Homo sapiens: one gene and its partners. Changing the gene in region 5 together with the main gene of any one other region gives a genetic interaction. Each region holds a gene or a part of one and is shown on either strand. Other genes may lie near its edges. The genes, in order: LETM1, VAPA, WASHC4, NOL10, ATG7, NRBF2 and IARS1.

Region 1 (4,687 bases), on a different chromosome or scaffold from region 5:
CTCAGTGAGAGGAGATGGTGCAAGGGGTTGAGGATGAGGCCACTGGGCCCCTAGGAGGCTTGGTGGTTAGGAAAAGAGTGAGTCCGGCCGGGCTCCGCACTGTGCCTGGGTGCACAGCAGCTGACGCTGCCGTGAACTTAGCACCCTGGCCCACAGTGTGGCAGGTAGAGATGCCAGTCGGCAGGTTTCAGGGCCCTTTGCCAGCTTGCCCAGACAGTGAAGGGGTGTGGAAGCCAATGTGGCCCCTCAAGGTAGAGCCTCCTCCACAGGCCCAACCTGCTGTCACCTCCTGTGGGGTGATCTGGGCTTGGAGCATCTTCAGACTCCCCATGCGAGCCTGTGAGGTGCAGCCTCCAGGCGCCTGTGCTGCCTACCTGGGGCGCCTCCTGGTACCTTCCATCTTGAACTCGCGGGCTGAAGTGCAGTGGCGCCATCTCGGCTCAGTGCAGTCTCAGCCTCCCAGGTTCAAGCAACTCTTCTGCCTCAGCCTCCCAATATCTGGGAGTACAGGCGTGCACCACCAGACCCAGCAAATTTTTGTATTTTTAGTAGACAGGGGGTTTCACCATGTTAGCCAGGCTGGTCTCAAACCCCTGACCTCAAGTGATCTTCCCGCCTCAGCCTCCCAAAGTGCTAGGATTACAGGTGTGAGCCACCACACCCAGCCATAAAAAAAAAATTTGGCCAGGCGCAGTGGCTCACGCCTGTAATCCCAGCATTTTGGGAGGCCGAGGTGGGCGGATCACGGGGTCAGGAGATCGAGACCATCCTGGCTAACATGGTGAAACCCCATTTCTACTAAAAATACAAAAAATTAGCCAGACATGGTGGCATGCACCTGTAGTCCCAGCTACTCAGGAGGCTGAAACAGGAGAATGGTGTGAACCTGGGAGGCAGAGCTTGCAGTGGGTGACAGAGTGAGACTCTGTCTCAAAAAAAAAAAAAAAAAATTTCACTTTTTAGCAAATCAAATAGAACTATTCTGTAAAAAGAATCATGATCACATGGGATTTGTCCAAAAAATGCAAATTGGCTTGAATTTTTTTTCTTTTGAGGTGGGATCTCACTCTGTTGCCCAGTCTGCAGTGCAGACATGACCTTGGCTCACTGAAGACTTGACCTCCCAGGCTCAAGTGATTCTCCTGCCTCAGCCTCCCGAGTAGCTGGGATTATAGGTGCCCACCACCACACCCAGCTAATTGTTGTATTTTTAGTAGAGATGGGGTTTCACCATGTTGGCCAGGCTGGTCTCGAACTCCTGACCTCAAGTGATCCTCCCACCTCGACCTCCCAAAGTGCTGGGTTTACAGGCTTGAGCCACTGTGCCTGGCCAAAATTTTTAAAATGTAATTTCCATATTAACAGACTAAATTAGAAAAGCTGGGAATGTTTATCTTGGTAGCTGCAGAAAGAGCCTGTGGCAGAACCCAGTATCTGTTCCTGATATGCAGATGTCCTGCACATGCAGGCAGCTTTCTCAGCCCAATCAAAAGCATCTGCAGAAACACCTCCAGCTGCCGTCACCCTCAGTGGTGAGACGCTGATGAGGTTGTCTGTCCTCACTCTGAGCTCAGCATCAGCTTGGGGGTTTCAGTCAGGGCAGTTGAATACAGAAAACAAAACCATATAGATCAGAAAGGAAAAAGGAAAACTCTTTATTCACAAATGGTGTGAACAATCAATTGTGCTTCACTATGGTAATGAGTAGTCAGAGAAGGTTTGAACAGTATGGCACCCCCCAAAATGAACTACTTAGGGATAAATTTGGAAAAAGATATGCAAGTGCTGTCCACGGAGTACTGTAAAATGTTGCTGAGGGAAAGAAAAACCAAACAGAGAGGCTGGGCGCGGGGCCCACACCTGTGATATCAGCACTGTGGGAAGCCGAGGTGGGAGGATCGTCTGAGTCCAGGAGTTTGAGACCAGCCTGGGCAACATAGTGAGACGCCGTCTTTACAAAAAATAAAAAGTTGGACAGATATGTCAGTGTGTGCCTGTAGTCCCAGCTCCTGGGGAGGCTGAGGCAGGAGATTGCTTGAGCTTGGGAGATCAAGCCTGCAGCAAGCCATGATTGCACCACTGCCCTCCAGCCTGGGCAACAGAGTGAGACCCTGTCTCAAAAAACAAGACAAGAAACACACGACCACAGGGGCAAATCTCAAAATAAGTGAGTGAGAGAAGTCAGACAAAAAGAGTGCTTGCTGGATGATCCGTCTATCTAAGATGCTAGAAAGTGCACCCGAGTCTGCAGTGGCAGGACCTGAGGTTGCCTGGGGGTCGGTGGCGGGACCCAGTGGGGGCACAAAGATGCATTTGGAGGTGACTCTTTGACTGTAGTGAAGTTTCACAGTACACGTGTCAATTCATAGATGACGCGCTTTAAACAAATGGGGTTTGGCATATGAGGGCAGACAGTGACTGCGTGCAGCAGCCAGCGCAGCAGTGAACCTGAACCCCGCGGGTCTCTTGTTACCAATGACTGTCCAGTGAGACTCTTGCCCTGGGCTGCCCGTATAATATGAACAGAGCAGCTGGTCACTTGGGAACAGGCCAGTTCTTTCCCTTGGCTCAGGCTTTGTTGTTTGCCCATTTTTATCCCAGGAGGAAGAGATCACGAAGGAGGAAATCGACATCCTCAGCGATGCCTGCTCTAAGCTGCAGGAGCAGAAGAAGTCACTCACCAAGGAGAAGGAGGAGCTGGAGCTGCTGAAGGAGGATGTGCAGGACTACAGCGAGGTGGGTGGGATTTGCTCCCTGGACTCTGAGACTGCAAGAAGAGTAAAATCGCTGTACTGGCCCCAAAAGTATACATAATACTTCCGTCAGATACTTGATAAGCTGGCCAAAGAGTATTTGGAGAGGAAAGCACGTTATAAATAAACCTTATTCAGTAACCTTTCCACAGCCATTCCGGCTGGACCAATCCTCTGTAATGTGGCTGTGTGCCGTTCTGGCCACAGATGTGTGTGCACCTTTTTTTTTTTTTTTTTGTAAGAAGGTCTTGCTCTGTTGCCCAGGCCAGAGTGCAGTGGCACAATTTCAGCTCATTGCAACCTCCACCTCCTGGGTTCAAGCAATTCTTGTGCCTCAGCCTCCCGAGTGGATGAGACTGTAAACATGTGCCACCATGCCCAGCTCAATTTTTTGTATTTTTAGTAGAGACGGGGTTTCACCATGTTGACCAGGCTCATCTCGAACTCCTGGCCCCAGGTGACCGACCTGCCTCGCCCTCTCAAAGTGCTGGGATTACAGGCGTGGCCACCGTGCCTGGCCACATCTTTTAGTTTCTAAACATGGGAAGGTGTCTCATGAAGAGTTTGGTCACTTGACGAGATCTTATTCATGATTACGTGAAAGTGGCTTTTTTCTTTTCTTCCATGGTGGTTTGTTTCCCTTTTTTTGTAAATATTACTTCCTAATAACGATTTTTTTTCTTTCTTTCTTTCTTTTTTTCTTTTTTTGAGACGAAGTCTAGCTCTGTCGCCCAGGCTGGAGTGCAGTGGCGTGATCTCGACTCACTGCAACTTCCGCCTCCTGGGTTCAAATGATTCTTCTGCCTCAGCCTCCTGAGTAGCTGGGACTACAGGCATGTGCCACCATGCCTGGCTAATTTTTTGTATTTTTAGTAGAGACAGGGTTTCACCATGTTGACCAGGCTGGTCTCGAACTCCTGACCTCATGATCCACCCGCCTCAGCCTCCCAAAGTGCTGGGATTACAAACATGAGCCACTGTGCCCGGCCCCTAATACGATTTTTTAAAAACTGTTTTCATAGCTCTGTTGGGAATGATAACTGATTTTTCAATTGGCAAAAATAATTGGCCATTTCTAGATTTATGACAGCCCTCATGCCATGTGGGTTCTCCACTGGATGTGAGGTGCTTATCACCAGCTCAGCCTGTTCCTTCCCTCCCCTCCCCTCGCCTTCCCCATTCTTCCTCATGGTGTTTACTCGTGGGAAAAAAACAACTTGGAATTTAAAAAGACACTTAAGGCTGGGCACTGGTGGCTCAGGCCTGTAATCCCAGCACTTTGGGAGGTCAAGGCAGGAGGATCACTTGAGCTCAGGAGTTTGAGACCGGCCTGGGCAACATGGTGAAACACCATTTCTGCAAAAAATACAAAAATTAGCCAGGCATGATGTTGTGTGCCTGTACTCCCAGCTACTCCAGAGACTGAGGCAGGAGGATTGCTTGGGAGTGGGAGGCTGGGAGTTGGAGGCTGCAGTGAGCTGAGATCATGCCACTTTACTCCAGTCTGGGTGACAGAGCAAGACCCTATCTCAAAAAACAAAGACACTTAATTTCCTTGATTAATTAGTTCACTTAATTTTTCTTTAACAAATGTGAAGGAAATTGAGATTCAGAATAGATTCTATGTCTTTTGCTTGCAAGGCAGTGTACAAAAATAAGAAATTTGTATGATAGAAATACAATTTTATAACTCTCTGGTTTGAATTAATGGGTTTAATTACCTTTACAAGTTAATTTATTACCTTTTTTTGTTGTTGTTTGAGATAGGGTCTCGCTCTGTCACTCAGGCTGAAGTGCAGTGATGTGATCTTGGCTCACTGCAGCCTCCACCTCCTGGGCTCAAGCCATCCTCCTGTCTCAGACTCCTGGGTAGCTGGCACTACAGGTGTGCACCACCACGCCTGGCTAATTTTTTGTTTGAATTTTGGTAGAGA
Region 2 (4,687 bases), on a different chromosome or scaffold from region 5:
GATTTTCCTGCCTCAGCCACTTGAGTAGCTAGGATTACGGGCGTGTGCCAACATGCCTGGCTCATTTTTGTATTTTTAGTAGAGGCAGGGTTTCACCATGTTGGCCAGGCTGGTCTCGAACTCCTGACCTCAAGTGATCCATCTACCTTAGCCTCCCCAAATGCTGGGATTACAGGCGTGAGCCACTGCGCCTGGCCAGAAGATATAATTATTTCAATCCACATGGCTAAAAATAGTTTATTGGTACAAACAGTTATATCCCTAGGAATCCATACAACTATGCAGAATGACTTTTTCTTTGAGGGGCCTAGATTGCTGGTTTCTGTGTATTAATATTTCTTGAGAAAACAACGTATCAAAACACTTTCTCCCACAGAAACCTGACTTATTAAAACCTTCAGACAAACTGGTTACTGATTACGCAAACATGCCCTTGGATTGTTCTACTTAATTAGAATTTGGCTTTTCCAGTTTTTAGTGTAGTGTATTTCCATTTACAGTCACTCAAAGCTATGCTTCTTCCAACAACCTTCTCTGGTTAATTCTCTGTACTACATGCTCATTTCTCTTTTTCCCTGTGTCCTTTTGACGCTTTGTTTTTTGAATTTGCTTCAATTTGTGCACATTTTTATATATGTTTTCAAGATCGTCTTTGTCTTGTTATGTGGTCTGCAACCTAAATTAGAGTATAACTCCTATAAACTTAACCATGTTGTAAGTTTTCGTTTTATTCACAAATTTTTGGTTCATAGTGATTAGCTTATAATCATTAACTCAGTGAAGGTTGCTAATGGAATTTTATTTAGCTTAAGCTGTATTCTGAGGCATTTTATCCAGTACATTTCCTGCTGCTGTGTATTTGGCCCCTTGAAAAAGTTGTCTTAACCTTGATAGCAGTTAATGGACTTCTCAGACACACCTTATGAATAAGACTTTATTACATAATTATTTCTTACATTTATTTACCCGTGTTTATCTTTTTGAAAGTGTAGAGATATATCTTAGAAATAATCTAAAGTTAGGGAAATAATTTCTATAATGCCATGTACATATTTTGTGTAACTGTTGATTGATTCTTTGTATAGTCTGTTATATTGGACTCATGTTACATAAATTTAGCATGACTTACAACCACATGGAACCTTAGAAAACTTAAAAGACGAGAAATTATAAATGCTTAAAAATTGCTCACGCCTGTAATCCCAGCACTTTGGGAGGCTGAGACGGGCGGATCTTGAGGTCAGGAGATCGAGACCATCCTGGATAACACGGTGAAACCCCGTCTCTACTAAAAATACAAAAAAATTAGCCGGGCATGGTGGCAGGCGCCTGTAGTCCCAGCTACTCGGGAGGCTGAGGCAGGAGAATGGCGTGAACCTGGGAGGCAGAGCTTGCAGTGAGCCGAGATTGTACCGCTGCACTCCAGCCTGGGCGACAGAGCAAGACTCCGTCTCAAAAAAAAAAAAAAAAAAACTTAAAAATTTTGAATGTTATTGAGACTGTAGAATAAATTTTAGAACTCAAGAGGCTATATGGTTTCCTTGTGTACTTTTGTTTTCTTAGAAGATTTAAATAAATTCATAAACTCTGAAATAGATGTTTATTTAAAATACAATTTTGAAAAATTAATTATATTAAAACAATATATGGGCTGGGTGCTGTGGCTTACGCCTGTAATCCTAGCACTTCGGGAGGCTGAGGAGGGCGGATCTCTTGAGCCCAGGAATTCTATACCAGCCTGGGCAAAATGACGAAAACCCTTTCTCTACAAAAAAATACAAAAATTAGCTGGGCATGGTGGCATGTGGCTATAGTCTTAGCTATTTAGGAGCCTGAAGTGGGAGGATTGCCTGAGCCTAGGGAGGTTGAGGCTACAGTGAGCTGAGATTGCGCCACTGCACTGCAGCGCAGCCTCAGCCACAGAGTGAGACCCTGTTTTAAAAAACAAAAAACAGATGGTAGTGAGGTTTTAAGTTACTGAGTATTTCTCCTTTAAATATCTCAGTTGTATAATTTTAAATCAGAAAACACTAAAATGAAGCCTAAATTCATAGTTTTAATAACTTATATTTAATCTGAGCTTATAGGCATTATAGTTAACGTTGGCAAAGTTTTGAAAATTTTCACAAGCTGAGTTTAGAAAGGGCAAAATCATAGATTCATATTTAATTTTTAATTGTAATTGTTTATTTTGTTGGTTGTGCAAAACTTAGTAAATTAGAAAGACAGACAATTTAAAAATACTTGGGATCCATTAAGTTGATTCTTAAACATTCCAGTGTTTGGTTTCTTGAACCCTTCTTGGTTTTTTTTAAATTTGCATATTTGTGAAGTAGTAGGAATGATACTATTGCCAGATACGGTTTAAGGCAAATCCCAGACTTAGTATAATTTAATCTGTAACTGTTTCAATGTATGTCTTTCAGACATGCAGGAGACAATATAATATATCCTTTTTTTCTTATTTAGTAATGCTACAGCCCTTTGACTATGATCCGAATGAAAAGAGTAAACACAAGTTTATGGTACAGACAATTTTTGCTCCACCAAACACTTCAGATATGGAAGCTGTGGTAAGTATAGAAGAAGAATTTGTTTTGGGAAGTGGAGTTTAAACTGTGGGTGTTGTTTAGCAGTCAGTAGAAAAACTTAATTTCTAAAAACTAAAAGTTAAATTTAGGTTTTTAAAAAACTGCCAATTTCTTCATTATAGATAATCCTAACTTAAAGAATGAAAGAATTTTTAAATAGTATTTTTTTTTAGAAACAATTTAGAAATGCTGCTACTGGCCTGGTGCAGTGGCTCACACCTGTAATCCCAGCCCTTTGGGAGGCCAAGATGGGAGTATCTCAAGCCCAGGAGTTCGAGACCAGCTCAGGCGACATGACAAGACCCTGTCTCTACAAAAACAAACAAACAAACAAACAAAAAACAAAAAAAACCACCACAACAAAAATGAGCTGGGTATAGTGTTGGACGCCTGTAGTCCCAGCTACCCAGGAGGCATGGGAGGATTGATTGCTTGAGCCCAGGAGGGGCGACTGCACTCCAGCCTGGGAAACAGAATGAGACCAACTGGAAAAAAAGAAAGAAATGCTAAGAAGAAAGTCCTATGGTTGCTAGTAATATCATCGTGATTTTAATGGATGGTGATAGTAACTAGGATTATATAAAGGTTCTGTGACATTAGCCGATAACAATGGCAGGGTGATCAATAAAGAGTGCACCAGTGTGTTTCAGCCAAGCCAGGCAGCTTCACTCATCTTTTAGCTGTCCCGTGAGGTGAAACTTACTTACCATGATCATACCTCCTATGTCTCATGTTTGGTTTTGTTTATTTTTAGTGGAAAGAGGCAAAACCTGATGAATTAATGGATTCCAAATTGAGATGCGTATTTGAAATGCCCAATGAAAATGATAAATTGGTAAGTAGGAGAATGTAAAAAAAATTGGGAGCTGTTGAGCTCTCAGTTCCTTTGATTAATTTTGCTTTTATTTTTGACCTTTGAGGTATGTGTGATATGGCTATTACACTTCATAAGACTCAGTGGTTAAGTTTTAAAAAACTTGGTATGCCTTTTTTTTTTTTTTTTTTAAAGTAACATTTTGTTTATCCAAGAAGAAAGAAAGACTCACTTTTAGGTCAAGACTGCATCCTGGAGAAGAATCATTTAAGTCTACCAGATTTTTTGTGACGTAAACCACTGCAGGTTCTTTTTTAGAATGAGATGTGTATACATAATTTAAAAATACATATAAATTGCTTTTTGGCCACTATGTACCGGCAGTTTGGGGATAAATTCACTTACATGGACAGTTTATTCCAGGTTTAGTTATTCCTAGGTATTTTGCTCACTTTTGTTTTTAGTCAAATCCATCTGATTGTATTCTTTAGTAAATAATTATTATGTTGCTTACTCATTAGTGTAAGTCTAATACAATTTGGGGGACTGAGGGATGTATTTGTTTATTCAAAAACAAACAAAAAATAGTCTGTGAATGTACCGAGTGGGTTGTAGTCACTTACCTTGTCCATTTCCCTGTCTGGATTGCAAATTTGAATCTTTTCCTATGGTGAGAGAGACTTGAAAGATAAATTTTTCTGTGTGTGTATGTGACTTAATACATACAATAATATGGATAAATAGAATGGTGTGGCACAATTTGGTTACAATCTGACATGACTACTGCCTTAATCTAGTGGCCATTTGCTCTATTGAAAAGTAAACATGCAGATTAAATATGTGGGCTCAGTTATTGTGTTCCTCTTTCAGGATAAGCAGAAATGAAAAGGTCTCTGGTAATTAGGTGTTGACCAAATTATATTTTGAATTTTTAAAATGCCTCTTTTAAGTGATTTTTGAGGTATTTGCCAAAAGCAAAAAATTGTGAACACATGTATTCTCTGTGGAAAGTGAGTGTTAGATGGCCTGTGTATGCTTCCCATTTGGAGGTTTTCTTTTTTGCTTAGGCGGAGGGAAGCTAATAGCTTGCCCAGCTCTTACTGTTGAAACCAAGAAAACAAAACAGCATGTTGTCTGGATTGACTTTTTAAAAAAAAATTTGGATATTTTCTCACTGAGAGTTTTATGTCATTTTTTACAGTAATTCGGTCAGCGTAAATCTATCTTCTATCTGGGCTTCTACTGTGCTCTGGATAGCACACACTTTGAGATGTGTGAAAAG
Region 3 (4,087 bases), on a different chromosome or scaffold from region 5:
TCCAAGAATTATGGTATCAGATCTGCATCGACTGAATAAATTTGATGTACATTCCTGAGTATATCTCCACTAATGGGAAATGGAGGTATCAGGTGAACTGAGTGGTAAAGAGGAGCCAAACTACTGAAAAGAAAATACTTACTTGCCCAACTTTTCTTATACATTATATATATGCTGACCTGTGTTATAAACTGAACTCTAACTTTGCCATCACCATCTCTTGAGTTCACTGCCTTTGCTTAGTCTCTACAGATTTCCACTTATTCTGGATTCCCTTTTTAAACTTCACATCTTTGACAGCCTATTAAAGTATTCCTAACATCTGAAAGCCTTTGTTAAAAAAAAAATGTGGTATTAAAACTTCCCTTAAAAAACGAATACCGTCTTCTGAAACATCTGCAATGTGAAGCTGGAAAGAAAATCCTGTTACAATTATTAAAATCAATTAAAGCCTACCTTTTACATTTAGCAGACTCAGCATAAAATAATAACATGAAGTATCCAATATTTTCTCATCTTTCCCACAATTTTACAAATTTACTGCCTCAGAAGAAAAAAGGAACAGCAACCAGACTTAACTTTACCAAGAATGATTTCTGCAGTGTAGTATTTAACAGGATTGTACCTCGTCTCCAGTGTAATATTTTGAAGGCTCTGTTGTCATTACTGTAGTCCCTGCTTATCTGAGAGGGATACACCAAAACGCCCAGTGCATGCCTGAAACTGCAGATAGTATCTAACCGTATATATACGGTTTTTTCCTATATATACATGCCTATGATAAAGTTTATAAGTTAGGCACAGTAAGAGATTAACAATAACTAATGATGAAACATAACTGTAACAAATACTGTCACCAATGCTGCGGAGAGAAGATTCATTCTTACCACAGATCTTAGCAACCCCACATATGATTTCTTTTCTTTCCTTATTGAGAACTTTCATGTTTTCACTTAAAGGATGCATTTTAAGGCTTCTCTTATAGCATATCTGAATTGCCAGCGTCACTACTCTTGCACTTTGGGGCCATTATTAAGTAAAATAAGGCTTACTTGAAGACAAACACTATTGATTTGACAACCTAGCTACCAAGTGATTCATGGGCAGGTAGCACATACAGCATGAAGATGCTGGGCAAAGGGGTGACTTACGTCCCAGGCGGGATGCAGCATGACAGCACAAGATTTCATCATGCTACCCAGAATAACACACAAGTTGAAACTTATTGTTTCTGGAATTTTCCATGTAATATTTTCAGACCACAGCTGACCACAGGTAACTGAAACTGGAAAGTAAAACACGGATAAGGGGAGACTACTGTATTGTTTTAGTTCAACTCAGGTTTGCAAATAGCACTATAGTTATTACTAACATTAAACAATGCATACTGATAATCCCTTTCCAGGATTAGGATTTAAAGTAACTTCATATTGGTTCTTTTTATTGGAAAAAAGCTCTGGAAAGATCAAGGATGTATAAAGGAAAGAAAACACCTTTCTTTCACCTGGAATACATTGACAGGAGCCAATTTTAAACTTCAAATTTTTACCTATGTGCATGCATTTTATAAAAAAATGATTCCACAGATTTCATTTCATTCAATTAAGGGGGACCCCAAAAAGGTTAATATTAAGAACTACTGGTTTACGACATTCAATTTTGAACATAAACATCCAGGGGAAGGAAATTTTCAAAATTATGTTTATTAATGTTTTAGTATACACATTATATTCTCTTAGAATTGGGGGAAAAGGAAAACCCCACTCAAGTGAGGTAACAAACTTGCCATCTTTTACAAAATTTCATTAGAACTGACAATGTTATGGTGAGTCCTTAATTCCTGAGAATTTGAATTATTAAGTTTTCTGTGAACTTAAAACAAACGCTCACATTAATTTTTAAATTACAGTATGTCTGAAAAAATAAAATTAATGTTAATGTTATCAAGAAAAATCATCATCCAAATGTACATATTAACCTATTAGATGTGAATATACTGAAGCCCTGTTGCTCTGCAGTTTGACACCATTTAAATTCGTTTCCAGGATCTTATTTCAAATATATGAACTTATAATTTATCCAGATAGCAGTGACATTATTTTGACCTAAAGGAAAAATAATTGTCTGTCATTTTCTTCTCAACTGTAGGTATCCAGGGAGTCAGCATGTGAACTCTATCTAGTATTGATAAAATAATTAATTTACATGTGTAGGGATAATGAACACAGAACATGTGATTCTCTTCTAGTAACAATTTCTATCCCTTAATAGGAGATGATTTCAGAGAAGTTAGAGAAGAAAAACAGAGAAAACAATACTGTTGCTATGAAATGACGAATTTGATATAATCAAATGCAAGATCATTAATATAAACACTTATAATAATGAAAATATAAATTATTAATTATGCAGCATGCTTTAGGGCCATTTCTACAGTTATTATGAATTACAAATATTAAATGCCTTTAATCTATCCACTGTTCATAATTCTGTAAGCCATGTTTACATAATAAACAAAAAACATTTCCTACATATTCTGTCTCTTCTGACTTTTAACAATTAAAGTATTTATCTTGGGCTGGCAAGTTACCCTGACCCTAACCAGTAAGTACAAACAGGGCATTGTACACCCATTCTAAAAGCTGGAATCAAAGAATAATGTTAGAAGTATTTGCAGGATTTATCCAAAGAAATGTTTAGCAGACAAATGCAATAGAAAAAAATCAAGCATTTCCCAAAATGGTGTTTGTATTAGAAAGTTTTAAACTTTTGTCTTCATTGTAAAGGTATCACTTTATTTTATTTTTAAAAGGCCATGATTAACCATTTAATAACTTACATACCTTTACAAAAATAAAACTAACAGCTTGCTGGGCACAAAATTTACTCAAAATCTTTCTGTATTTTTAAAATCAGTAAGTGATGTATCTTGCTAGCGCTTTATTCTCACAGTGGTATTTTTTTAAAAGCCTGAACAGTGTAATTATTTAATCTGATGTTTTAAATTATACTTGATATAAAAAAAAAGTCTACCCAAACCATCACCAAAATTTCAATTCAATCTAATGTAGAAGAAACCTGAGTTTGGATGTAGAAATAATTCATTCAATTTTTTTTCTGACATCATACATCATGCCTTCAACCAAAATAGAAGTGAAGCTTCAAACAGGACTCTATGGCTTTATCTGAATTTTCTGAGTATTAAGTAAATCTTAAATTTAAAGCAGCTGTTGGAGGTTAAATGTTCTCAAAGCAATGTAAACTAGTTATAAAATGTCTCATCAAAGACATCAGCAGCTCTTGTGAGTCACATGAAATTAACAATGAAAGAAGGATCATCAGTTATACTGTACACTGAGAGTACATAAAACACTTGTGCCTCACCTCTAGTATCAAAGCCATCTTCATATATTCCTTTTATAAGAATATTGATATGTATTCTTTATGAACTTCAGGCTCATTCCTTTTGTTAAGCATGTATTTACTGGCTGTATATAGTATATGCATTGAATTTCCCATGACTTGAAATAACTATAGATCAAAGATCTATGCAAATACAAATTACAAACATGTAGATTACAAGAAATCCGAGGTGATAGTTTATGAATCTGGATTTGCCCTTTTATAACTTCACTTCAAATAGAAACATCTTGTACCCTCAAGTCCAGGCAAAAATCCAATTTTAAAATCTCATTCTTAACCTTTGAAAGTAGAGCCTTTGGAAACAGAATGAACTTCACTTTAAAGCACTGCCTTTAAGAACTGTAACATCTATTTTCCAGAGATGTGACCCAGGAAACAATTCATCAATAGTTTATCCATTCCACTGGCAAAAGTTTTAACAATTCTGATGATTTCATCATATGTGCAGTGAATACCATCCGTATCATTTCACAACAGGATCAGCAGACACAGTGCTGTCAGACAGGTCTCCATTGCTTGTTTTAGTTTCTTCTGAAAGCATGAGTGAAAATAATAATGGATATTTATGTTCATTTTTAAACAATAAATTAAGAAGTAAAAGAAATTTGAGAAGAGCTGTATTGCCAAACTTCAAATTACAGTTGCATCCATCAAATGTTTCTCT
Region 4 (4,687 bases), on a different chromosome or scaffold from region 5:
ACAGAGTAAGTATTTGTAGGTGAGGGAACCCCATGGGGAAAAAACAAGGACAAGGAAAGTGTGTGGCTTCTGCAGCTTAAAAGTGTTCCACTGATACTCATAAGGCTCTCTCTACCCTGTATTTTACTGCATGTAAACTATACCTCAAAAAGTTGTGACAAATAAGTAAATCCCCTAGAGACCAATGTACTTCAATAGCGACGCTCCCCTCAGGCCTCCTGGGTGCTTCCCTCACATCACCTCCTGCACGGCCTTACCTCCCCTGCTTCCCTCGTCCCCTCCACCCTCTGCACCTCCATCATCCAAAGACAGAAATGTCATCTTTAGGGCAATGTGCCAGAGAGGAAAAGCAAGGGCTTGGTTACATGTCAACTGTGCGCTCAGGCAGTGCTACTCACTTCATCAGTTTCTGCTTTGTGGCAGAATCTTTGAAGCTTCTAAATTCTTCTCCTGCTTTGATCTCATAAAACTGGGGCTTTAGGACTGTCTGCTGGTCCTCCTTGAGTCGTTCCTGCCGCTTCACTTTTTCCTCCTGCTGGAGGAGTCTGCGTTGCTTCCTGACCTCTTCAACCCAGGCTTTTTCATCATCTGAACTCTCCGAACTTTCTGCATCACTTGGTTTTCCTTCCGGCTCTTCCTCCTCTTCCTGAGAATAAAAATAGTAAGCAGCAACTCCTTTCCCCCAGTCAAACACAGACCCCTTGGTTTCTCTGAAGCAGCACTGGCCCATTAATGAGTGCCTAACAGCTGCTCTACTGCATGCATCAGGAGAAATGCCTTTAAATAAATAAGATAATACTCCTAAGCCCAATGTCAAACACTTAATATGGAATTAATTACATCTCAAGTATAATCAAAGACTCTTCTAACTTACAAAGAAAACATTACATTAAAGAAACAGTAGCAAATTCTAACTGATAAGGAGTACATTACTTTTTCACGAAGTTCTTGTTGCTCTAAGAGTCTTAGTTTCTTCTTCCTTTTTTCACTAATTTTTGAAACAAGTGGATTCAGAAGCCTAAATTCTTCACTCTCTTCATCTACTTGGAAGTCAGGGTTCTCAAACATAACTTTAAATCGATCATCGGTGAGAATATTAGGAAGACTCTACAAGGAGGAAAAAGTACGTAAAAATTTAAGTTAATATCTGACTAAAATTTGACCAGAAACATGGTTTTAAAACACTGATTCTATTATAAGTTAATAAGCGGCATGAGGCATACATTATTAACTCATTATGAAATTTCTTCCAGGACTTTCAACGTGCCCCTAGGTTTTAGCTGCCACCACCAAAACAACCTCTATTAATCTACTTTGCAGATGCTCTACACCACTTGGCCATTACACACAATGAGCCAAGAATGACCCTTTTGGCTAACTTTATGCTTAACAGATTAGAAAGAATTTCTTCAATTAACATTTTAATGCAAAAAAACACCTTTCAAGAAGATACTAGGTTTTTAAAAAGTGGCTTTTATTATTTTTTAGAGATACGGTCTCACTCCAGGCTGGAGTGCAGTGGCACAATCACAGCTCACTGCAGCCCCAACCTCCTGGGCTCAAGTGATCCTCCCACCTCAGTCAGGCTCCCAAGTAGCTGGGACCACAGGTGCACCACCGCACCCGGCTAATTTTTTATTTTTTGTAGAGATGGGTCTCACTATGTTGCCCAGGATGGTCTTGAATTCTTGGGCTCAAGCAATTTCTCGTGCCTTGGCCTCCCATAGTACTGGGATTACAGGCATGAGCCACTGAAAACAGGGCTTTTAAATAAAGCTTAGTTACTACACTGACTTAAAATAAGCAATTCTTTCAACTTCAGATTCCAAAACTGGGAGAGGAGGTATACAAAGTCAGTAACTCACATGGTGGGATGCAGGAAGCTGGTGATGTCAGTTTACCGATTCCAGCTGAGTTACTGGGAAACAGAAGGGACGTTTCCATCCCCTACAGGGTTGTTTCATCAATATTCCCCCTCAGGTCAACTAATTGTTGTCAAAGGATATTGTGTATCCTTCAGATACAAAAACTTTGGCTACTGAGACCCATTTAGATAGCTCAGGACTGATACTAAATTCCTTTTTATTTGTACCATTTTCAATGGAAAGTTTTCTAAACTGTACTGTAAACTTACCTGTTCACTTAAGTAGATGACAGAGAATCTTACACATTTAGGACTGTCTTATTGTTCCTTCTCTGCTACAGGCTTGGAAGCCAGATGAAACGGCTTACTCAGAATTGTTTGTCAATCAGAGTAAACAGCCCTGAACACTGCTGGAAAAAGCTGACCTGTTTGTGATGGACTCTGACTCTGCTGAACAGACTACTTTACTATTTCTCCACTGTTGAGAGTAAACAAGATTGCAGGCAGTTGAGTTCTGAATATTATTTGTGTGACAGACCTATACAAAAGTTTAGTAAATCATAAGATATTAAGGAACTTGGCCTGTTTATTATTTGTATGTACCTAAAAACAGATAAACCCTTACCTAAAATTCTAAGATATTAAATGCAGCAAGTTTCCCTGATTAAACATCATTTCCAAGAAAGACTTACAACGAAGGGAAAAAGAAAGGTAAGATCGAGTTCCTGATCCTAAACTAGTAAGGAAGAAAAAACACTGCAAACACGTGCTACTAGGCCTCTTCTGAGGGCTGCTCGGTAGTGCTGAAAGTGCCACAGGAGAGGACAGAAAAAGGAATCCCAACAAAAGACACCCCAGGAGGGGCCCTGGGGGGTGCAGCATCAGGGAGGGGGCTTGAAAGATGAGTAGGTTTCAACAAGTAGAAATCTGAAGAAACAGCATTTCCAGCCGATGGGAGTGGTGAATAGTCTGGCGACATAAGAATGATGCAATTTCAAAACAATTTTTTGATTGGGTCATACTGTAAAGGATTTTAAATACCATGACTGTTATTTTGAAGATATAAGGGGAAACCACTAGCGAAGAGGAGGAGGGGGAGGAAGAAGAGGAAGAGAAAAAGGAAGAGAAACGAAGGAGGGAGACAGGGAAGGAGGGAGGAAGGAGAAGATGGATGATCAACAGAAGTGTGCTTCAAGACTCCCAGATGACAGAACTGGCCAGGTGGTGGTTCATGCCTGCAATCTCAGCACTTTGGGAGGCTGAGGTGGGAGGACTGCTTGAGGCCAGAAGTTCAAGACCAGCCTGGGCAACATGGTGAGACGCTGTCTATACAAAATATAAAAAATTAGTCAGGCGTGGTGGTGCATGCCTGTAGTCCCAGCTACTTGGAAGGCTGAGGTAGGAGGATCGCTTGAGCCTGGGAAGTCAGGGCTGCAGTGAGTTGAGATCACACCATGTACTCCAGCCTGCGTAACAGAGAGACCTTGTCACAAACAAACAAACAAACAAACAAACAAACCAACCCAAAATTGTGCTTCAAAAGTCTGCAGCAGCCTGATGTCTGACGGACTGCTGAGTAAGAAGTTAGCATCATGAGAAGACTAAGAAGCCATTTTAAGAAACTGGCAAGAGAGACAGGGCCTGAATTAGGGCAATGGGAACAGACAGTTTTTAAGAAAGAATAATTACGAGATACAGTTCTAAATTAGAATTGACAGATCCAGCTATGGAGATGGGAGGGTTAAGAATTAAAAACAGGGTTAGAAACTTCTCTCAAACATGTAGCTTAAGCAACCAGAAAGCTGGCGACACTGAGTTAGAATCCATCACTGGAGAGCATTAGGAAAAAACGCAGGGGTGGAGTAAAGGGGAAGAAATCACGCTCCATTTAGGGCTGCCTATGCCTGTGGCACAGGGAGAAGAGCACCAGGATTCAGACGGACACCACTAGGTGTCTGGGAACGATGCGCCATGTCTCAGGAGAAGGGAGGGGGCTATGATGTAAATTTTGGAGTTATCTGTAGATATCGGATAGATGATAGTGTGAAAGATAATTTCAAATGAATAACTATGTGCCTATTACACATTTTCAGGTTAAAAAAACCCAAGGGCAAATATTTACTTTTCATCTTACTATATTTATTAAAGTAATAATCATATTTAATAAATAGAGAAAATGTTACAAAGACTACATATGTTGCTGGTATTAAGATTTTTTTCTTAATTTAAAACAAATCAATTGCATTGCCTAAAGACAAGTATGCTTTGGATGAACAACTATAAAATAAAACCTCTTCTGACCCAGCTTGTAAAAATATTTCCCTCAGGGTTTTTTCCTAGTCTGTTTGTTTTCACAGCTGTCTTAAGGAAAAAAGTAGGATAAGGTATAGCTATTAATGTTCTATAGGAGCTTACAAGTGTCTGGCTAGTGATCCGTCCTATAAATACCCGTCTACACATGCTCAACTTTACCATTAAAATATAGAAAACATTAAAGTACTATTCATACCACAGTCCTACCTGGAAGAATGGTATCTGTCTACCTGAGTGGGACGCCTATTATTATTTTGTTCCAACATAGTAACATATATGAAGAATGATTGCCATTTGAAACAAATTAGTTTTTTTTTTTTTCTTTTTTTTCTTTTGAGATGGGGTCTTGCTCTGTCACGCAGGCTGGAGTGCAGTGGTGTGATCTCGGCTCACTGCAACCTCTGCCTCCCGGGTTCAAGCGATTCTCCTGCCTCAGCCTCCTGGAGTAGCTGGGATTACAGGCACGCGCCACCACGGCCGGCTAATTTTTGTGTTTTTAGTAGAGACGGG
Region 5 (4,687 bases):
TCAATAATGGCTGCTCCCTGAACAGCTCCAAGAGAGCTCCCTGAATGATGGCATCAGTATTCAGGGCTTTAGTGATTGATGTGTTTCAAGAATTCAAATCATCTTGACACATAATCTTTGCCTTAACAACAATAAGAATTCTCTAGTTTAGGGTCTCTGTTATACCAGCCTGATTATTTTAACTGCTCTTCTGGGAACCATCTCTAATGAACTTATTATCTATCCCAAATGTCACCGACTAACTCTGCATGTACTGCTCCAGGTAGAAAAGTTCTGCAACTTGGTACAAGGGTAGGAGAATGCCTTCTGTTTTGTTTCAAAGACTCTTTCCCAGACTATACTGCCTTATGTTTCCCCACATTGAAAATGAAGACCACATTTTGGTAAATTCTTTCAGTGTTTCAAAATATTCCTATAATTCCCCCTTACTGGCTTAGCATTTCACCAAATACCACTGAAAACCTGGAAAATTACTGTGCACTACATCTTCAAAATGACTTTACAGACCAGGCAGGGTGGCTCATGCCTGTAATCCCAGCACTTTGGGAGGCTGAGGTGGACAGATTGCTTGAGCCCAGGTGTTGAAGACCAGCCTGGCCAACATGGCAAAACCCCATATCTATTAAAAGACAAACATTAGCCAGGTGTGATGGGATGCCTGTAGTCCCAGGTGCTCAGGAGGCTGAGATGAGAGGATCACCTGAGCCTGAGAAGTTGAAGCTACAGTGAGCAGTGATCGTGCCACTGCACTCCAGCCTGCGTAATGGGGGTGAGACCCAGTCTCAAAACATATATAAATATATATACAAAAAAATGACTTTACAAACATTTTCTAAATAAGTCTGCTCCTAGTACCACCTTTGGAGGATTTCAGTTACCACGTCTTCATCCAGAGAAGTGCCTGTTTGTCTTTGGAAAGAACTACATAACTACTCTTGCACATTCAACCCAATTTTATGTGCATTTTGGTTATTTGTTGATACCTGTTTTAGTGAAAACCTTTGATCCAAACCCACTGGCCCCTGAATGAGAGGTAAACTCTCTGGAAGACAGAGGGCAGGATAGCAAAACCAATAGTAGAAGTGGTACTTCTTTAGATCCTAGAAAAAAAAGTATAAATAAGTTATTAGAATAGCACCATTAACTTAAGGTGAAATGCATCTATTAATGTAGCTTCTCAAGGCCAATTAAGATAGCAAAGCTATGCAAACAAAGTCTGTCCAGCTTATCAAATATCCTCATCCCCAACAGAACTCATGATCAAATAAAGGACTTTTGTATTCCCAAAATAGTCTCATATACCACCACTAATAATATGATGACAAACATAATATACTTTATTGACCACTTGCTAACAGAAAATGTGCAATATGTAATTGATATTATCATCATCATCCTTTAACCTACAAAACCCCCCTGGGAGGTATTTACTATTATCCCATTTTATAAACAGAAAACTGAATCTTACAAAGGGGTAAAAAACCTAAACAACAACAAAAAAGATGGCAAGGGGCAGAGAAGAGATCAGAACTCTGCTTCCAAAACTTAAGCTTTTTTCCACTGACCATAGATACTTAATGTACTATCTACAGAAGCACAACTTCCAAACAGTTACCATTCTCTTCACAATCAAATAAATTACATGTTATTAAGGAAGCTGTGCTATTCACATATGTATGCATGCCTGAAATAATACAATATTGCTTTTGTAAATGGCTTAGTGGATTTAAGTCAACAACTATCAAGCCCTTGCTATGTACAAGGCAAAACATAAGACACTGACAATAAGATGAATAAACCCCAGTCCCAGACACCAGGCAGCTCACTTTGTGGACAGAGCAGAGATAAAGCGAGTGCATGATTAGAGCCATGGAGAGGCTCTAAGTAGTAAGCTGGATGGGTGAATAGAAGAGGTTACATCTTCACGGGTATATCTGACCGATCCCCCACCAGGGTAGGAGATCCAGGGGAAAGGATTTGTGAGGCTGTCTTTGACACTGTTCCCACTCACGCTAATGGCTCTTGCTTCAGAATTCTTACAGCTTTTGGGGCCTTAATTAAATTCATGGTAGCATTCCAGACATATGTGGGTATTTGGCAGCTTGCCTACAAGCCTGTGACCACTGAATATGAATGCAGTTTATGTAGCTAATTAATATTTCTTCTTGAATCTTGCTAAGAATTAAAATTGGATGGTTGTTAGATGACTTTTTATTGAGATATAATTTACGTTCCATAAAATTCACCATGTTAAAAAGTATACAATTTAGTGGTTTCTTTTTAGTATAGTGATATGGTTGTACCATCATCACTATTAATTCCAGAATATTTTCATCACTCCAAAAAGAAATCTCATACATATTAGCAGAGACTCCCCATTCCCCCTCTTCTCATCCCCTGGCAACCACTAATCTATTTTCTGTCTCTGTGGATTTTCCTAGTCTGGACTTTTCATATAAATGAAATCATACTAGATGAGTTTTAAAATGTAAATGTATATGTAATCATGTGTACAGATGAGAAAGTCTAATAATTGTAATCTCTGCGGTCTCTAATTCTGCTATTCATTGATCAACTAAGAAAAAATTCCCTCTTCACAATGGCAAAATGAACTGCAAAGCTGAAATTAATGAACTGTCTAGTCCTATGAGTCCTAAAAAACAGCAGAAGGAAAGCAAAAACACCTCCAGAGATTATTTTCTCTTCTTTGTACTTAAATGATTTGTCATAACCGATATTTAGTAAAAGGTTAAACAATTCAAGATGAAGAAACTCACAAAATCTTTTTTTTTTTTTTTTTGGAGACAGTCTTGCTCTGTCACACAGGCTGGAGTGCAACGGCACGACGATCTCAGCTCACTGCAACCTCCACCTCCCAGGTTCAAGCAATTCTTCTGCCTCAGCCTCCCGAGTAGTTGGGACTACAGGCTGCCATGCACAGCTAATTTTTTTTTTTAATTTTAGTAGATACGGGGTTTAACTATGTTGCCCAAGCTGGTCTCAAACTCCTGAGCTCAGGCAATCCGCCTACCTCGGCCTCCCAAATCGCTAGAATTACAGGCATGAACCACTGCACCCGGCCGGACCTCACGAATTCTAAGAAACTTTATCAGGTCATTTTCAAAAGTCAAAAAGCTTGCATTTCTTAGGATTCTTTTCAGGATAGAAATGACCTCCATTAAATTAAACATAAAGTCCTTGGTGTCTGAAGATTTTAAAAAGTAGATACTTACAATTTTTTTTAAGTCAGGCTAAGAATGCTCAGTAAACAAGGCAGCAAGACCAACACACATACTGACTCTAGGCAAACCTTAAAACTTTAAGTAAGAGCTAATGTTATTTTTCTCATTAAATGCAAACTGTCAGCATGTTCTACTATGAGAATTCTTGGTACAGAAAGCGTACTGACGTTCAAGTAACTAGAAATCTTTAACTAGCAATGCTTACAATTTATCCCAGTAAAGAGCCTACAGGCTGCATGCGGTGGCTCATGCCTGTAATCCCAGCACTTTGGGAGGCCGAGGCGGGCGGATCACGAGGTCAGGAGATCAAGACCATCCTGGCTAACACGGTGAAACCCCCTCTCTACTAAAAATACAAAAAATTAGCCGGGTGTGGTGGTGGGTGCCTGTAGTCCCGGCTACTCAGGAGGCTGAGGCAGGAGAATGGCATGAACCTGGGAGGCAGAGCTTGCAGTGAGCCGACATCGCACCATTGCACTCCAGCCTGGGTGACAGAGCGAGACTCCGTCTCAAAAAAAAAAAAAAAACTACAGAATTACCCAAACGTATAGACAGATTATTAATGCCAAACTGAGCCAAGTAATCAGACAAAAAATTTAAACATTTTTCTCTCTCCTCCACTATTACATAGAAAGCATTATAACTTGTTAGAAAATGTGTTCCTTGTAGATAGCCACCCACTGGCCTTGTTTGATTGCTATCATACCCTCCTTTGCCTTGGGCAATAAATCAGAGGCCTCCCCTGCATCTAGGAATCTAGGAGGAACGGTGGGAGGTCGGGGAAGGAAAACTTGCCAAAAAAAGAAGTGGGAAAGAGGATTAATGTCCAAAGCTGATGATGCTGTGGTGAAACAGCACACTTAATACACAGCAACATTACTGTGTTTATATGCCCGCTCCAAAGAACTTATTCTAAAGAAGTAAAATGAGCAGGAGAAAAGATCAATATGGCTAATATTATATATTTTTCAATATACCACAGTATTTTTTTTTTTTTGAGACAGGGTCTCACTCTGTTGTCCAGGCTGGAGTGCAGTGGTGCAATCATGGCATGCTGCAGCCTCAATCTCCCAGGCTCAGATGATCCTCCCACCTCAGCTCCCCAGTAGCTGGAACCACAGGCAGGCGCCACCACACCCAGCTAATTTTTATATTTTTTGAAGTGACAAGGTGTTGCCCAGGCTGGTCTCAAACTCTTGGCCTCAAGTGATCCACCTGCCTCAGCCTCCCAAAGTGCTGGTATTACAAGCATGAGCCACTGTGCCCAGACTAGCATTTTTTATAACAGTGAATATTAGAAACCACCTAAATATATAACAGGAATCTATGAAACATACATTTGACAGAATGTTATATAGTCAATATAATAATAAAGGATATAAATTAGTTTTATATACACAGATATATATACACACATCTGTGTGTTGCTGTGTGTGTGCACGTGC
Region 6 (3,785 bases), on a different chromosome or scaffold from region 5:
ATGTTTGCAAAAATACCATTCAGAAAGTCAGAAGTCCTATTCCCAATCAATACACTAAATTGGATGTTTTCCTCAATGTGCCTGACCCCATGTGTAATGTCATTTGTACTCAAAATTAGAAATCTTTCCTCTGTAGACATATTAATTCTACCAACAGCTAAAAAGAAAGTCTTCCTATCAACCGCGTGTTTGGATAACTCAATGCATGCCTGTATCATGAGCAGATTCTATACTTTCAAAGGCAGTGAAAGGGATAGAACACAACTTTAAAGTTCCCTTGGTTCAGTTTGAGAAACTAGTGGCTTTCCCTGCCACTGATATACCTCACAGAAATGATCTCTTTAACTAATACTTTTATAACAAAAAGTTTTTAAAAAGATATTTTATATATATTTATTTTAGAGACAGGGTCCCTGTTGCTGAGGCTGAAGTGCAATGGCGCAGTCATAGCTCACTGCAGCCTTGGACTCAGGTGTTCAGTGATCCTCTCACCTCAACCTCCCAAGTAGCTAGAACTACAGGCATGTGCCACCACGCCCAGCTAATTTTTTAAGTTTTTGTAGAGATGGGGTCTCACTGTGTTGCCAAGGCTGGTCTCGAACTCCTGGGCTCAAGTGATCCCCCTGCCTTGGCCTCCCAAAGTGCTGGGATTACAGGCATGGGCCACCATGCCCAGTCTTATGAATAAATGTATCTTGAAACACTTGGCAGGGCCTCCCCAAACACAGAAGACAATTTAAAGCAATTGGTGAAACAAATTTAAAAGTGCCTGAACTGCTTAAGAATTCAAGCAAAGACAAGTGGGAGACTGGTCAGATTTAAATTATCTTTGACAAGCAAAGGGTGGTCCAACTAGTTTCCTCTTGGCCAGGCCTGTTTACTGACTGTAAGCTAATGATCAAATAAGAGCTAATGATTAGGAATGGTCCGAAGAGGGCTCTCTAAAAGGTACATCTGGCTGGCAATCTGAGATCTGTGAGTAACCACTAGAAAAAAAGAAGTTTCTGCATTCCATGTCTGGGGCATCGACTGCAGTTCATTTAGTTTTAATTTCCGTTGTGAAGTGCTCTTCCCTTGCCCATTTTATATATTTTTGACTATAGCATTTTGAGAGGGACACAATGCTTTGCTTTACACACAATTCAAGCCTCCACAAGAAAACCTTTCTAACCCTTGTCGCAAATATTGGGAATATGTCTCACCTGCTCTGACTGTGTCAGCTTCATGGCTTCAGAAAGATATGCTGTTAAGAGAAAAAATAGGCATGTTAATATGTGTCTTCATTTTGTAATTAACAGGTAAAAGGAAGAGTTTTAATAATCTTCATATGACAAAGAGAACTGGTCTGATAACTCTGATACAATTGGGGATTTTTTAAAAGAATTCTTAACTTCCCCCAAAAGGATGTCAGTGGCAATAAAATGAAAATATTCCCTACCCTATCTTGAAGGTTTTGTTATTTAAAACTCCTACAGATTTTATAATTCAGAAACTGAAGATGGTCTAATCAGAAAAATAGGTTTAGGAAAGATAAAAATCAAACAAGAACCTATCCAAACCCTATTACTCATCATACTCACAAAAATATCATGAGATTATCAATGACTTTTTATCCGTCTGAATACCTGGAATCTATCATTTTGGACTCCTATAGAATCACTTTTAATGAATTGTCTCTGAGTTAAACCATCAGCCTTATGGTTAAAAGCCCTAAGAACTTGTTGACATATTTACTGCGAGGAAGTTACTGAGGACAGTATAATGTCATTTATGAAGACCTTCAATAAACTTCTCTCTGATCTTAGATCCTCGGTGACTATTTGTTTGAATTTTAATAGCCAATGTAAAAATTATTATCTTTCCTCTTTAGGATGACTGCTAGAAAACTTAAGTCAAGTTCTTAAAAAAATATGCAAGAACTAATGGTACATTTTGTGAACTACACTACTAGTCCTTTCTCATTTTCTCTATGGATGTCCTTATCTATGTATCTTTAATTACATTCGATATTTTATTGTACATTCATCTGTAAGACATTTTATAACCTTTCGGGAACAAGGTTAGGTATAAATAAGTTCTCTATTATCAATGAATTGTCCATAATGAATCTCCATTTTTATCTTGCTTGTTATAAACATTTTTGGCATCTCTCATACCTACATTAAGTTCCTCTTTTGCCCTTTTGCAGATACTACGAGGCATTGCTTTCTGTCCAGTCTTAATCCAAATAATTTAATGCTTTGATGTCATAACTTAAGAGTTCTTGCCTGCTAGGTTCTACCACAGTCTTTAAGATACAATTATATCAGGGGTCCCAAACCCCCAGGCCGGTACTGGTCTATGTCTTGTTAGGAACTGGGCCACACAGACAGCAGGAAGTGAGCAGCAGGCAAGCCAGTGAAGTTTCATCTGTATTTACAGCCACTCCCCATTGCTTGCATTACCGCCTGAGTTCTGCCTCCCATCAGATCAGCAGCGGCATTAGCTTCTCATAGCACAAACCCTACTGCAAACTGCACAAGCAAGGGATCTAGGTTGCACTCTCCTTATGATAATCTAATACCTGATGATCTGTCGCTGTCTCCCATCACCCCTAGATGAGACTGTCTAGCTGCAGGAAAACAAGCTCAGGGCTCCCACTGATTCTACATTATGTTGAGTTGTATAATTATTTATTTCTATTATTACATTGTAAAATATAAAGTGTACAATAAATGTAATGTGCTTGAATCATCCAAAAACCATTTTCCTGACCCCAGGTCTATGGAAAATTGACTTCCACAAAACCAGTCCCTGGCAGCAAAAAGGTTGGGACTGCTGAATTAGATGCTCCCTTTCCAAGAAAAAGAAGAGTTGGAGCCAGGCGCAGTGGCTAGCACTTTGGGAGGCCAAACAGGAGGACTGCCTGAGCCCAGGAGTTCAAGACTAGACTGGGTAACATAGCGGGACCCTGTATCAATTTAAAAAGAATTTAAAAAAAAAAAAGGAAAGAAAAAACAGAGTTGGTTATACAGTCTTTGCTCCAGCTATGCTTACCATAATTACATCCTTCCCACAACCCTTGTCTTTTTTTCCTGTAGTATGTCTGTACAGCTGCATACTATTTCTTTTCCTTTTGTTCATGTTTAAATCTGTGAAGACGGCCGGGTGTGGTGGCTCACACCTGTAATCCTAGCACTTTGGGAGGCTGAGGCTGGTGGATCGCCTGAGGTCGGGAGTTCGAGACCAGCCTGGCCAGCATGGTGAAACCCCGTCTCTACTAAAAAAAAAAAAAAATACAAAAATTAGCTGGGCGTGGTGGCAGGCACCTGTAATCCCAGCTACTAGGGAAGCTGAGGCAGGAGAATCGCTTGAACCCATGAGGTGGAGGTTGCACTGAGCCGAGATCACGCCACTGCACTCCAGCCTGGGTAACAGAGCAAGACTCCGTTTCAAAAAAAAAAAAAAAAATCTGTGGAGACATTCTAACTGCTCTGCTACCGCTCTGATACACTGTAGACACATTTTCTTAGACATCTCTTCCATCTTGCCTGCATATATTTGTCTCCCTGTTTGAACTATAGTTTGCTTTAAATCCACTTTCTTAACAAACAATAGTTTTCACAAAACCAAGCTTTAGCCAACTGAAATGCCACCCTTTGTAGAACCTTGAAATTGTATATGACAAAGGAGGTTACAGAAGGATATCCCAAAGCACAAAGAATTCAACAAGAATCATACTGTCATTTAAAGTATTCCCCACATTTAAATCTTATAAGTGGGGCATTTTAAAGTTATTTTTAAAG
Region 7 (4,687 bases), on a different chromosome or scaffold from region 5:
TTATGCTCTCATCTCTTGGTAAAGAAATGTTCTAGGAAACAGAAAAATACCTGAGCATCTGAGTGTGCTTCAAATTGCGCAGTCCCACCTGTGGCCTGATCAAAGGTGTACATGAGGCGGATGTCTTCATCGTGCAATTCATGGCCTTCCACAACAATGGTCCCTATGGAGAAGCAGCTACACTGTTAATCAGCTTCCCCTCCTCTTCAAGCTGCCCCACTACCCGTGTATTATGCCCCTTCTTGATTAAAATTTCACAATAACAAAGCCACAGAGGCTTCAAGAGATCATTTCCCTCTGACTCATGTCATGGTTGTAGCCAAGACATGACAAACTTTCTTTAGATTACACTATGCTACCTTGAAGACAGTTAAGTCATCACCAGTATCTACTGTTTTATATAAACTCTCAGGTCCAAAGACATGACAAAGCTAAGGGAAGGCACCAAGAGGCAACAAATGCTCACCATAAACACAGAGCAGCAGGATGTCATGAAGAAAATACAGTCTTTAAAGAGAAAGTGAACTTAGGTCCACTATTTGCTGGTTGTATGACATGGTGTTCTGCTACCTGCTGAGCAAGGTGTGGTGAGGCTAAAATGAGACGGGCAGTGTGTAGTACTGAGCATCATGCCTGTTCAGGGGAGGCAGAAATGTGAACAGCTGCTGATGTTAACACCCCCGCTGATAGGGAGGCCCACTGTTGTCACTGATGATGACCTTCTTGGGCTCTGAGCACCCGGGTGTCATTTTTATGTTTACTTTGTCTCTGTGTTCTGAAGATGATCTTGTTTTCCATCAGTGCAGAACAGTACGCTCAGAAACTAGGCTTTCAATTTCAAATAAGGTTTAGCCCAGGAATTTTTTTTTTTTTTTTGAGACAGAGTCTTGCTTTGTCACCCAGGCTGCAGTGCAGTGGCAGGATCTCGGCTCACTGCAAGCTCTGCCTCCTGGGTTCACGCCATTCCCCGGCCTCAGTCTCCTGAGTAGCTGGAACTACAGGCGCCTGCCACCACACCTGGCTAATTTTGTGTGTGTGTGTGTGTTTTTAGCAGAGACGGGGTTTCACCGTGTTAGCCAGGACAGTCTCAATCTCCTGATTTCGTGATCTGCCCGCCTCGGCCTCCCAAAGTGCTGGGATTACAGGCATGAGTCACCACCCCCAGCCATCTCAGGAATTTTTGATGCTTTGGCTATCTGGCGAACAATTTAGATTTGTGGCTTGAAGGCTCGTAACACTTTGTTATTTTAATATTTTGAGTTGATTAGTAATTAGTAATAACTTGAGGTTTAGCTGCTGATGTCTTATGTTTTATTAATTCTATCTAAATATTTGGAGAATCTTAGGGACAGTTCCCCCATCTGATTTATGAATCCTCAAATCTCTCTTCTCAAGACATCTCCTAGCTTATGATTTTCAACTTCAGAGGAAGCCGTAACAATAAACAGCTTGTGCCCCAGGATAGTTACAGGATGTCAGACAGCCACACTCAGACCATGTATGATTCTAATCATGGCAGAGCTGCAAATTTCTGGGCACCCTGAAATGCTCTGTATAGGGGTAGCAAGATGGGGCTGATTTCCCTTTCCTAATCCCATCATTTGGTTAGGTACCCCCACATGTTTTTATGTTACCCTACACCTTCCCTTTATAACACTTATCAAAACCATAATTATTTTCCCAAATCTTCAATGTCAGCAAGCACCATGAAAGTAAGGACAAAATCACCCTAGGCTCCAGGGATCCTCCCACCTCAGCCTCCAGAGTAACTGGGATGGCAGGCACATACCACCACATCTGGCTAAGTGTGGTAGTATGTGCCTGTAGTGATCTCAAGTGATCTATCCAACTGGGCCTCCCAAAATGCTGGGATTACAGATGTGAGCCGCTGGGATTACAGATGTGAGCCTCTGTGCCCAGCTATTTTCTTTCTAAACTGTAAGAATTATTTATAATAAACATTTTTATCAACAGGAAAAAAAGTTTTACTTAAGAAAAGGATGGACCGGTGCAGTGGCACACACCTGTAATCCCAGCAATTTGGGGGACCGAAGGCGGGTGGATCACCTGAGGTCAGGAGTTAGAGACCAGCCTGGCCAACATGGTGAAACCCTGTTTCTACCAAAAATACAAAAATTAGCCAGGCATGGTACTACGTGCCTGTAATCCCAGCTACTTGGGAGGCTGAGGCAGGAGAATCACTTGAACCTGGGAGGCAGAGGTTGCAGTGAGCCAAGATCGCGCCACTGTGCTCCAGGATGGATGACAGAGCGAGATTCTGTCAAGAAAAGAGAAGAGAGAAGAGAGAAAAGAGAAGAGAGTAAGGAAAGGAAAGGAAAGGACAGGACACGACGGGACACGACAGGACAGGAAAGGAAAGGATGTGATATTAAAAGTCAAACAGTAGCCTAAAAAGTATCCCTCAGACTCAGGACATAAATGGTGCCCTTGTCTGTGTAGACACCTACCAGTCTTCTGGAACTGCTCCAGCTCCTCACTGCTCAACTGCTTGATGGACGTCATCACTGCCTTAAAGGCTCCCTTCAGACGCTTCCCCAGGACCATGTGATCTGGTTCTGCCCTTAGCCGAATGCCATACTTGTTTTTATCTGTAGACAGTGTAACTTTTCGAACATTGAGTTCCTACAGTTAATGCACAAGAGGAAACAAAAATGAGAAATGAAAACATATGTTCACACAAAAATGTAGGTCCACAGCAGCATTATTCCTAACTGCCAGAAAGCAAGAACACTTCAAGTGTCCATCAACTGTGAATGGATAAACAAAATGCAGCATACACATGCAATAGAGTATTTGGCAATATGAAGGACTGAAGCACTCATATGTGCTACAACATAAATTAATGTGAAACATTATGCTAGGTGAAACACGCCAGACATAAAGATTACAAATTGTATGATTCCACTTATATGAAATGTCCAGAGAAGGCAAATCCAGAGATAGCAAATAGGTTCGTGGATGCCAGGAAATGGTCAGATATTGAGGGGAAAATGGTTTGTGAATGTTAATGAATACTGGCTTTCTTTCTGGGACGAGGAAAATGTTCTAAAACTATGGTGATAGTTGTACCATTCTATAAATATGCTTAAAAACCAGTGATTTGTATGGTAAGAAGAAAATGCTTGTTATGAAGATCTATCAAGACAGTTGAGCATAACAGAAAAAGGACTCCAGACCCAGAAATATAAACCTCATCCCTCAGAGGTAACCTTTGTGCAAGCAATTGCAGAGTACCACAAGGTTAACTATTAACTAAGCAGAAGATCAGTTAAACAGAACACTTCATGCTTCAGTCATGCTACTGAGGATTACTGATGCGGCAGGGATGGTGATGGCACAGTAGCGGATGGGAAAATGAGAACAGCTTGAAGCAAATAATACGGAATGTTTAGTTTTGCCATTATATTTAGCTACATTAATTAATCTCATTTTAAGTGAAGTAGTTAATTTCAAAATTTTTCAGCTGGGTGTGGTGGCGCAAACTTGTAATCTTAGCACTTCGGGAGATCGAGGTGGGAGGATCACTTGAGCTCAGGAGTTAGAGACCAGCCCGGGCAACATGGCAAAACCCCATCTCTACAAAAGCCTGTACTACTATGCCTAATCTCCGCCACTTGGGAGGCTGAGGTGGGAGGATTGCCCGAGCCCAGGAGATGGAGGCTGTAGTGAGCCAAGATCACATCACTGCACTCCAGCCTGGGTGACAGAGCGAGACCCTGTCACAAAAAAAAAAAAAAAAAAAAAAAAAATTTCTATTTTATGCATAGCCACAGGTACTAATGTCAGAATTTAAAATCTAACTTTTGGTTTCTAATATTTCTCTGCAACTTTCAAGCAACTGAAAACCAAATATAGAAATTAACATTTTCTATAATAATGATTTTAAATATCACCTGTGAAAAGAATAAACAATGAAATTTTAAAAAATATTTGTTTTCTATCATCACAAAGAAGATGAGGTAAAACATATGCGTTTTTAAAACATCATGGAATAAAGATGTTTTAAAATATCATGGAATAAAAATGTTTAGGAAGACAACTGACACTATAAACTTTGACCCCAAAACTCCACTTCTGGAATCTATCCAATATCCATACACTGATATATGCATATATGTACACACAAAGCTTTTGTTTGTAATCAGAAACCTAAATGTCAAACAACGGGACAGTAATTAAATAAATTATGAAGCAGCCAGGAAGTGAGACTCCAGGGAGAAATGGGGTGGAGAGAGGCTCCCTATGCTATTGCTTCGACTTTTTACATGCGAGGGTACTTGTCACTTGCATAATTTGGAGGAACAAAGTTTCTTTGGTAGTTATCAAAAAGTACTTCAGAAGGCCAGGCACAGTGGCTCATGCCTGTAATCCCAGCACTTTGGGAGGCCAAGGCGGGCAGATCACTTGAGGTCAGGAGTTTGAGACCAACCTGGCCAACATGATGAAACCCCATTCTCTACTAAAAATACAAAAGTTAGCTGGGCATGGTGGCGGGTGCCTGTAATCCCAGCTACTCGGGAGGCTGAGACAGGAGAATCGCTTGAACCCAGGAGGTGGAGGTTGTGGTAAGGCACTACTGCACTCTAGCCTGGATGACAGAGTGAGAGACTCTGTCGAAAGAAAAGAAAGAAAAGTAAAGTAAGGGAAAAGGAAAAGGAAAGGACAG

The links.
Region 1: of ATG7 (region 5) and LETM1, changing one enhances a phenotype caused by changing the other (phenotypic enhancement), as found in Homo sapiens cells (one large-scale study listed by BioGRID).
Region 2: of ATG7 (region 5) and VAPA, changing one enhances a phenotype caused by changing the other (phenotypic enhancement), as found in Homo sapiens cells (one large-scale study listed by BioGRID).
Region 3: of ATG7 (region 5) and WASHC4, changing one enhances a phenotype caused by changing the other (phenotypic enhancement), as found in Homo sapiens cells (one large-scale study listed by BioGRID).
Region 4: of ATG7 (region 5) and NOL10, changing one suppresses a phenotype caused by changing the other (phenotypic suppression), as found in Homo sapiens cells (one large-scale study listed by BioGRID).
Region 6: of ATG7 (region 5) and NRBF2, changing one enhances a phenotype caused by changing the other (phenotypic enhancement), as found in Homo sapiens cells (one large-scale study listed by BioGRID).
Region 7: of ATG7 (region 5) and IARS1, changing one suppresses a phenotype caused by changing the other (phenotypic suppression), as found in Homo sapiens cells (one large-scale study listed by BioGRID).

What each region holds. Positions count from the first base shown.
Region 1 is NC_000004.12:1,817,387-1,822,073, reverse strand, and holds part of LETM1 (mitochondrial proton/calcium exchanger protein precursor), read left to right. Parts: intron 1-2,601; coding exon 2,602-2,736; intron 2,737-4,687. UniProt on the Homo sapiens protein: Plays an important role in maintenance of mitochondrial morphology and in mediating either calcium or potassium/proton antiport. Mediates proton-dependent calcium efflux from mitochondrion.
Region 2 is NC_000018.10:9,933,641-9,938,327, forward strand, and holds part of VAPA (vesicle-associated membrane protein-associated protein A), read left to right. Parts: intron 1-2,469; coding exon 2,470-2,573; intron 2,574-3,345; coding exon 3,346-3,426; intron 3,427-4,687. UniProt on the Homo sapiens protein: Endoplasmic reticulum (ER)-anchored protein that mediates the formation of contact sites between the ER and endosomes via interaction with FFAT motif-containing proteins such as STARD3 or WDR44.
Region 3 is NC_000012.12:105,166,731-105,170,817, reverse strand, and holds the end of WASHC4 (WASH complex subunit 4), read right to left. Parts: intron 3,955-4,087; coding exon 3,887-3,954; 3' UTR 1,688-3,886; downstream 1-1,687. UniProt on the Homo sapiens protein: Acts as a component of the WASH core complex that functions as a nucleation-promoting factor (NPF) at the surface of endosomes, where it recruits and activates the Arp2/3 complex to induce actin polymerization, playing a key role in the fission of tubules that serve as transport intermediates during endosome sorting.
Region 4 is NC_000002.12:10,588,645-10,593,331, forward strand, and holds part of NOL10 (nucleolar protein 10), read right to left. Parts: intron 1,108-4,687; coding exon 934-1,107; intron 647-933; coding exon 399-646; intron 1-398.
Region 5 is NC_000003.12:11,309,717-11,314,403, reverse strand, and holds part of ATG7 (ubiquitin-like modifier-activating enzyme ATG7), read right to left. Parts: intron 1,101-4,687; coding exon 984-1,100; intron 1-983. UniProt on the Homo sapiens protein: E1-like activating enzyme involved in the 2 ubiquitin-like systems required for cytoplasm to vacuole transport (Cvt) and autophagy.
Region 6 is NC_000010.11:63,149,608-63,153,392, reverse strand, and holds part of NRBF2 (nuclear receptor-binding factor 2), read right to left. Parts: intron 3,166-3,785; exon of another isoform or gene 3,037-3,165; intron 1,244-3,036; coding exon 1,203-1,243; intron 1-1,202. UniProt on the Homo sapiens protein: May modulate transcriptional activation by target nuclear receptors. Can act as transcriptional activator (in vitro). Involved in starvation-induced autophagy probably by its association with PI3K complex I (PI3KC3-C1).
Region 7 is NC_000009.12:92,244,909-92,249,595, forward strand, and holds part of IARS1 (isoleucine--tRNA ligase, cytoplasmic), read right to left. Parts: intron 2,644-4,687; coding exon 2,469-2,643; intron 164-2,468; coding exon 51-163; intron 1-50. UniProt on the Homo sapiens protein: Catalyzes the specific attachment of an amino acid to its cognate tRNA in a 2 step reaction: the amino acid (AA) is first activated by ATP to form AA-AMP and then transferred to the acceptor end of the tRNA.